Regions from separate parts of the Homo sapiens genome. Here region 1 is linked to region 2. Evidence: fine-mapped expression QTL. A gene starts in region 2. The other region holds a variant in brackets. All regions are shown on one strand. Distances are between the middles of the regions.

Evidence for each region. PIP is the estimated chance that this variant, and not a neighbour inherited with it, causes the effect.
Region 1: its variant is the best candidate, but not a certain one, in a credible set for the expression of DNAJC22 in pancreatic islets (PISA, PIP 0.68).

What each region holds. Positions count from the first base shown.
Region 1 is chr12:49,404,059-49,408,442 of GRCh38, reverse strand. All of the region lies in intron 2 of SPATS2 (spermatogenesis associated serine rich 2), which reads right to left. Among named protein-coding and RNA genes, the nearest start is that of SPATS2, 39 kb to the right of the region's middle. The variant C/T (reference allele first, on the strand shown) is at 2,626.
Region 2 is chr12:49,344,355-49,348,738 of GRCh38, reverse strand. It overlaps DNAJC22 (DnaJ heat shock protein family (Hsp40) member C22), which reads right to left and starts at 1,851. Exons shown (of 4, transcript NM_001304944.2): 1 at 1,188-1,851; 2 at 634-1,095. RefSeq lists silencers at 815-1,034, 3,067-3,186, 3,207-3,306, 3,337-3,526 and an enhancer at 209-1,152.

The DNA of each region.
Region 1 (4,384 bases), 60 kb before region 2:
TGTCTCTACTAAAAATACAAAAATTAGCCGGGCATGGTGGTAGGTGCTTGTAATCCCAGCTACTCGGGAGACTGAGGCAGGAGAATCGCTGGAGCCCAGGAGACGGAGGTTGCAGTGAGCCGAGATTGTGCCATTGCACTTCAGCCTGGGTGACAAGAGTGAGAGTCTGTCTCAAAAAAAAAAAAAAAAAGAAGAATACTATCATCTCCAAATTAGGTGTGGCCTTCGAAAAGCGGGCGTATCTCTGCTATCAGGTAGTAATGGCTAATACATTCAAGAACCTCAGCTTGAACAAAGTATTATGGCTGACATATTCCCAAATTATCCTTGATTTTAAAGTCTAATAACTAATAACTTTTTAGATATTAACTCATATAGCATTTTACAGTCTGTAACCTACCATTTAACACTGACATTGTTTTCATTCAATCAGTCGTCTGCTTTGTGTCAAACACTGTGCTAGCCAAGGAGTCCACAAACTCTGTCAAGGGCCACACAACAAACATTTTAGGCTTTGCTGGACATACGGTCTGTCACAATACTCAGCTCTGCTGTTGGCGGTGCAAAAGCTGCACTGACAATATGTTAATGAATGAGCATGGCTGTGTCCTAATTAAACTTTATTTACAAAAAGAGGCAGTAGGTCATTTTTGGCTTGGCAACCCCTGTCTTAGCCTATGGGGAGATAGCAATAAAACATTTTTTAAATTAAAATTTGAATAAATAAAATACACACAGAGCCTATCAGATCCAGATAAGTGCTACAGAGAAAATGAAGCAGGGTAAAGGCGATAGAGAGCCAGGGCCTCACCAATATGGTGACATTTCAGCCTGACCCCTGAAATAAGGAAGAGGAAAAGCCATGCTACCTGCATAGGAAAAGCATTCTAGGAGAGGTAACAGCAAGCACAAATGTTCTGAAGAAGAAACAACCTGGCATCTTAGAAAAACAGCAAGGATGCCGCTGTGGCTAAAGGAACGTGAGCAGTGGAGAGTCATAGGAAATCAGGCCAGAGGAGTAAACTGAAGCCAGACTTTGTACAACCTTTTAGTCCACTGTCACAACTTTAGCTTTTACTCTAAAATGGAAAACCACTGGAAGATCTTGAGCAAAGGAGTGACAACCTCATTTGACTTAATTTTAAGAGGATCATTCTGGAGGTCTGCTGAGAAAAGACTACACAAAGACAAGGACAGAAAGAGAGAACTCAATCAGAAGACTAATGCAACAATCCAGGAAAGAGAGGACAGCAGTTTGAATCTGAGTGGTAGCAGTAGAGAGGGTGGTCAGATTCAGTATGTATTCTCAAAGTAAAACAAGATGAAATGTGATATGTAGAGAGAGGCATCAAGGATGATTCCAAGGTTTTTGTCCCAAGTAAATGGAAGGATAGTCTATTTACTGAAATGGGGATGACCATGAAAGAGGCGTGGAGACACATATGAAGTGTGAGATGCCTATTATATCCACTATTACACATGCACATAGAGATGTTAAGTGGCCAGTGGGATACACAAGTTTGGTGTTAATATTATTTTACATTATGATTGTTCCCAGTATATGTTTGCTCTCTCCAACTGTGTTATAAAATCCTTAAGAATAAGAACGCCTCACTTTCACTTCATTCACAGGTGATAGTATCAAGACGAATTCTTACTTTTTTTTTTTAACCAAATCTGCCTTGATCTTGGAACTCTTATTTTATACACAATTTTAATAGGGTTATAGTTCTAGTTCCTGAATCCACCAAAAGATAGAAGTAGCAAATTTAAAATAGGGGGAAAAAAGCAGCTATCACTGACCGCTGACAAAGGAGTAAACAGAAAAGAAAGCATAAAAAGCTGACAAAAACTAGGCTGGGTGTGGTGGCTCACACCTGTAATCCCAGCACTTTGGAAGGCCAAGGTGGGAGGATTGCTTGAAGCCAGGAGTTCAAAATCAGAGTAGGCACCATAGTGAGACTCCATCTCTACAAAAAGTAAAAAAAAAATTAGTCAGGTATGGTGGTGCACATCTGCAGTCCCAGCTACTGGGGAGGCTGAAGTGGGAGGATCACTTGAGCTTGGGAGGTCAAGGCTACAGTAAGCTGTGATTGCACTGCTGCACTCCAGCCTAGGTAACAGAGCAAGAGACCCTGTCTTTAAAAAAAAAAAAAAAGTTTACAAAAACTAGAAAGATCTAGCATTCCAAGATTATTTATTATTTACTATAGGTATTATACAAACAACTGTACATATATGTCAGTATCCTCCCGAATTCAAGCTATCCTCCTGCCTCAGCCTCCCAAGTAGCTGGGATTACCAGCATGCACCACCATGACTAGCTAATTTTTGTATTTTTAGTATAGACAGGGTTTCACCATGTTGGCCAGGCTGGTCTTGAACTCCTGACCTCAAGTGATCCACCCGCCTCGGCCTCCCAAACCAAAGGCATTGTTCTGACAGAACAAAATTTTTCCAAATATCTTTAGTTACATTTAATGTAATTTTCAAATGTCATGTTTTAAAGTATTGTTATTTAAAATGGAAGAAACTGTATGCAAAAGAGTAAATGTCAATTATCTGAAAAATTTATATATGTGTTATCCTCACAGGTTTGTTAGAAGGCAGATGAAATTATATACA[C/T]GAAAGTCGTCTAATAAACATTTATTTGGACTCGCCCTGTACTAAAAATGGTAGACATTTACGAAAAAGTAAGTTATCATTCAAGCTCAAGTCCCTCCTTTTTTTGAGACAGTCTCGCTCTGTCGCCCAGGCTGGAGTTAAGTGGTGTGATCTCGGCTCACTGCAACCTCGGCTAACTGCAACCTCTACCTCCCGGGTTCAAGTGATTCTCCTGCCTCAGCCTCCCAAGTAGCTGGGATTACAGGCATGGGTCACCACGCCCAGCTAATTTTTGTATTTTTAGTAAAGACGGGGTTTTGCCACATTGGCCAGGCTGTGTTTTAAACTCCTGACCTCAGGTGATCCACCCAACTGAGCCTCCCAAAGTGCTGCAAATTCAGGCGTGAGCCACGGTGCCCAGCCCAAGCTCAAGTCTCTTTTTGAGAGATGGACATATGAACAATTAATTATAACACAATGTGATCAGTAAAATGAATACAGATGTTGAATTCAGACATCTGGGTTTAAATTTTGACACTGTGTCAAAATTTAAGTGTGTAATTTTAGGCATGTTACCAACATCTCTGGAAATTATTAAAAAGATTATATATAAATATGTAAAGCATCTAGCAGGGTAGACTGCACATAGAAAATGAATGGTAGCTAATTATAATCCTCATACACACATGGTACAATGAAATAATAATAATGGGTTAAACCAGGTGCCACACTTTTTCTGTAAAGAGCAAGATACCAAATATTTTAGGCTTTGCAAGCCATACAGTCTGTATTGCAACCACTCAAATCTGCTGCTGCAGTGTGAAAGCAGCCATAGACAATACAAAAAAAAAAAAATGAGCATGGTTGTGTTCCAACACAAGTTTTTTTCAGGGACACTGATATTTGAATTTAATATAATTTTCATGTGTCACAAAATATTCTCCTTTTTATTCTTTCAACCACTTAAAAGTATAAGAACCATTCTTAGCTTGCAGGCCATACAACAGCAGGCAGCAGGCCAGATCTGACCTGTCCGTGAACAGTAGTTTACCAACCCCTGGTACATAGGAATGTTGGGGATGAAGACAGTGATCAGAACAGATGACTCTGTTCTCTGTTCCCCTGGGTAAAACAAGGTTTGGCAGTTGGAGGGGCAAAGACAGCATACCTGTGGCTGCTCGACACATAACTATTCTCCCCTATTCTCTTTGGCTAATTTCTGCTCATCTTTCAAGTCTCTATTTAAATATGACTACTCTAAGCAGGGCACAGTGGCTCACGCCTATAATCCCAGCACTTTGGGAGGCCAAGGAAGGAGGATCACCTGAGGCCAGGAGCTGGAGATCAGCTTTGGCAACATAGCAAGACCCAGTCTTTACAAAAAATTAGCTGGGCATAGTGGCATGCACCTGTGGTCCCAGCTACTTGGGAGACTGAGGCGGAAGGATCGCTTCGGCCCAGGAGTTCAAGGCTGCAGTGAGCTAAGATCACACAACCACACCCCAGTCTAGGCAACAGAGCAAGATCTTATCTCTAAAAAAAAAAAAAATGAAAAAAAAAAAAAGTCTGTAACTCTAGAACCTGTACTCTTTCCCTCCCTACCCCACCTAAGACTAATCTGATCCTTTCACTAGAGGCTTCCAAAGGACCCTGACAATTTCTATCATAGCATTCACCACGTTAAATTGTAATTTCTGGTTTAATTGTCTTCCCTGCAAGATTGTAAATCCATGCAAGCAGGAACTTGTCTCTTGCTCAACATGATATCTCTAGCATCTAG
Region 2 (4,384 bases):
AAGATGATGTCCAGGCTCCAACACAGCAACCATTTCTCTTTCCAATAAAAGTTGAGTACAGATCTGCCTGAGTCCCCAGTGCTATTTATCTCATATCCCTTGTCCTAGCACCTCAGTCCCATTCTTTACAACCACAGTGACTCCAGATTTAGAGGAGAAAGCTGTTTAAATTTCAGACTTCCCCTGAGACCCATGACCCCAAATGACTCATGGGGGGATGTGTGGAGGGGCAGGGCTGCATTGGATGCTTTTCCAAAGTTCCCACACATTTTGAAAGCCTCTGCCTTACCCCTGACTTAACTCCAACTGTGGCTGCCCTCCCACACCTGGCCCAGGCTTTAGCCACTCTCCTGCCTTCCTAACTCTCCAGGCCATGAGATTTTCCCACAGGTCAAACTTGAAAGGGGTCCTGAATTCCCTTTATTAAAATATTCTGGAAAACTTCGTTTGACCTAGACCTTGGCACCCCACAATTCAACCACCTCTTTCGGAGGCCGGCTTGGAAAGCCACTCCACAGCAGCTGGACAAATCCTCACAATATCAAACTGGACGCCAAGCGTGCCTGCCAGTGTCCCCTCTATCTGGAGCGACCACCAGCCAGCACCCGCTACTTCCAAATCAAGTGGCCATACCTGGGTGCCCCGCTCCCAGACCGAGTCAGACCAGTCATTTCCTTTGACCACAGAGTGAAAATGGCCCGTCTCGCCCTGCTCCCACTTCCATCCAAATGGACTTTGTCTTTTGTGTCTGTTGTGTCACGGAAGTCCGGCTTCCCCAGGCCAGGCTCCTCCCCAGGGCCCTCCCCGGCCCCCTGGGGATCACATTCCCGCCTGGGACTCCTCCCGCCCGCCCTCGCGGGGAAACTCGGTGCAAGGCTCTGCAGACGCCTGCAGCTCCGGTGGGCTCAGTGCCCAGCCCGGGCCCAGCTCCTCCCACACCACCGCACCATGGCCGCCAGGTGGCGCTGCCGCCGATGGAAGGGGGGGTCCGGGCGGTCCCCAGACACCTTGTGCGGGTACCGAGGCACAGCAGCACAGGACTGCCCCTATGGAGGGGCTGCCTGGCAGGAGCAAGGGACGCTCCTATCTGTAGTGCTAAAAAAAAGGATAAACTCCTGTAAATGCAAGAATACGTCCTTGATTACCTCCTCCCACCCCCACAAATTGAAAGGTGACTCCTCCCTCACCTCAAGCTGCACGCTCCTCTCTTCACGCTCCGTTGACCTTCAAGACTGGATGGTTCCACCTCCAATTCCCTTAAGGCAGAGACATCCACGGACAGGCTGCAGTGAGGGACATCCAACCCAAGCTGTCCTCAACCCCCCACAGGGCTTGCTTGCCTCACCGGCCCACCTCCGAGCCTTCCAGTTAGGGGCTCTGCTTCTGCACCTGAGCCTGAGACCTGAGGAGCCTCCCAATCCAGGGCTGCTCTGTCCCGCGGGCTATGAACCAGAGGGAGAAACGGGAGCAGAGGGTTGGAGGGCAGGAGGCTCGACCAGGAGGGCGAGGCCGCAGCCCGAGGCTCGTGGTAGTCTGCCTTCCTGCGCCTCTGCGCTGCAACGGAGCTGCAATGCAAGACGCCTTCATTTCAATGTCCCGGGCTCCAATCCCGGGTTCTACTCCGTGAACTTGGCTAAGTCATGCAGCTTCTTGGGCCTCAATTTCCTTCTCTGGCAATCTCGTGGATCTCCGAGGTCCCCCAGTCTGGACTTGCGGGGGCTTCGGGGGACGGTCGGCCTCGCGGGTGTCACCTCCCGGCAGTAGGCAGAGCGCTTCCCTCCAAACGCCCTCAGCCCTCATCTCGGCCTGGAGAGGAAATGCTGCTCTCTATATGACCTCTTAGGGCTCACTGAGGGGCCTAGGCTGGGAGGGGCCCCAAAGCGACGCCTCAGACTGCTGGGGGGCGGGGGCGGACAGGAGCGCTGAATAATGAATGAGACTTAATTGGGCCCGCACTGCGCGACGGCGCGCTAAGCTTTGCAAACAGCGTGGGCGGCGGCGGCCGCCGCTGGACAAACAAACTATCTCCCGGCTCAGGTGGTGGGGCGGGGGCGGCAGCCATACAAGGGAGAGGGAAGGGGCTGGCCGCCGGGGCACCCGGGGCCGCAGCGCGCCCCCAGGTTTACTTCCCGAGGAACCCAGAAATGCGGGGCTGCGCTGGCGGCCCAGAGAGTGGGGGTCGGGAAGGGGCTCAGGGTTCGATCTCAGGAAGGGAGGAGTGGGGAGGGAGAGAAGCGGATTGTGCGGGGAGAGCCAGGGGCCCAAGGGCAATGTAAGCGCGAGGAAAAGCTGAAGAAACGAGTGGAGGGCAGAGGAGAGGGGAGAAGTGAGCGAGGAAAAAGCGCACCGGGGGAGGGGCGACGGGGTCGGGGGAGCGGGAGAAGAGCTGTTACCGGGAGGAAAGGGAAGAGCGATGGAGGAACAAGCGAAGGAAGGCGCAAGGGGCCGGGAGAAGAGGAATTGAAGAGTCAAGGAGAGGGATGGGAGGTGACCGGAATAAGAACGAGGGGGCGGCAGGGCGGGGGGAGGCGCCCCTGCCTCCGCCTCGCCCTGCAGCGCTCCCGGCCTAGCGCTCTCTCCAGCCGCCCGCACTCACTTTGTCACAATTACGGGGCCGTCACTCCGCCCGGATTGTTTTCCCCAAATTGTTGTTCTATAAACTGGTGCAGAGTGGGAGGTGGGGGGATCTGACAAACTGCAGCGAGAGGAAAGGGTCTGAGCTGTGGTGCGGGGCGCGGTGGTGCATTTACCCGCAAACTGGCCCCGCGTGGGCGGAGGAATCCAAAAAACCCACGCAGGAATTCTGGTTGCTGCCCCAGCTTCGTCGCTGACCCCGCTTTTAACTTTTTGGCTATTCTCAGCATCGGCTGCCTCGGTTTCCCCAGCAGAGCGTGACAAGGATCGGAGGCTGGGGTGGTGGAGGCGCTTGTAGGTGGGGTCCAAACCGTCCTGCCTGTCCCATTCTGTCTTGTTCTTTACTACCCGGGTCTCCCCGGCGGGGGATGGGTGGTCTATCCCAGCCCAGCGGTCCTCAGAGCGACCTCGAGTGCCTTCTTCCCCCGTGAGTGAGGCTTCTGCCCTCACCCGGTCTGGGCCATCTCCTACCCCGCCTGTGCCCTCCGACCCTCTGCCCTGCGCCGCTCGGTGTCCCAGCCTTTCAATTCGGCAAACATACGTTGCGCGCCCACTGAGTGCCAGCGCTGAGCCAGCCTCACCCCGCCGCCTCTCCCCCCCGCCACCCGCCCCTTCCCGGCCGGCCCGGCCTGTCGGCTCCGTGACAGCAGCCGCCGAAGCCCCGGCCCCGCGGGAGCGGCCAGAGAGGAGCCGCCGCATGGCTGGCTCCGACACTGGCCTCCCCGGCGGCTCCAGGGGCAACGAAGGGTGGCGGCCGCTGAAGCGAGACTGGAGCCTGCTGGGGGAGTTGGCAGGGCTGAGCGGGGGAGGGGGAGGCCCTGGGCGGGCTTCTCTCTGGTTCTCTAAGGCCTGTCGTTCTCATTCCGTCGCCCTCCGGTACCGCCCGGGTCCCGACCCCTCCTGGCTTCGCGAGCCTGGGACGTGGTAGGCTCCCCACGCCCCCTCCCCCAGCCCAGGTGATTTACACGCGGGCTCCGCGAAGCGGCCGCTTCCCAATCAGGAATATCGACCCCGGGCGGGGCCCCCGGGCCGCATCGATCCCTCTAAGGCTCGGGATTTAAAAATGTCAAATTTGCCTTTTCCAGGCGGGCGGAGGGGGCGGGGGCCAGGCGGAGGGAGGTTGGGAGGAGGGAGGGACAGCAGGGCATCGACCAGGCGTCTGTGCTCAGAATGTGAAGTGACCCGCGCGTGCCCGAGCCCTGACACGGTGTGACCATCCTTGGGTTAGCAATCACCTCTGGATGGGGGCAGGAAGAAAGCCCTCCTCCTTCTCCTACTCCAGTGTCCGTGGGGTATTCTGCTGGGCTGGTGTATTCTTAGAGAGAAGAGCCCCAAGAGGAACAAAGAGAGAGCCCCCCAAAATGTAGGAAGACAAATTTGGAAGATTCCTAAATGTGGAAATATGCAGACACAAAGGAGGGTACAAAGCCTGGGCGCCGTGACTCACACCTGTAATCCCAGTACTTTGGGATGCTGAGGTGGGTGGATCACCTGACATCAGGAGTTCAAGACCAGCCTGGTCAACATGGTAAACCCTGTCTCTACTAAAAATTAAAAAAAAAAAAAAAAAAAAGCCGGGTGGAGCCTGTAGTCCCAGGTGTTCAGGAGGCTGAGGCAGAAGAATCTCTTGAATCCAGGAGACGGAGATTGCAGTGAGCCAAGATCGAGCCACTGCACTCCAGCCTGGGAGACAGAGTGAGACCCCGAAAAAAAAAAAGAAGAGGACGTTTACAGAGATAAATATACAGAA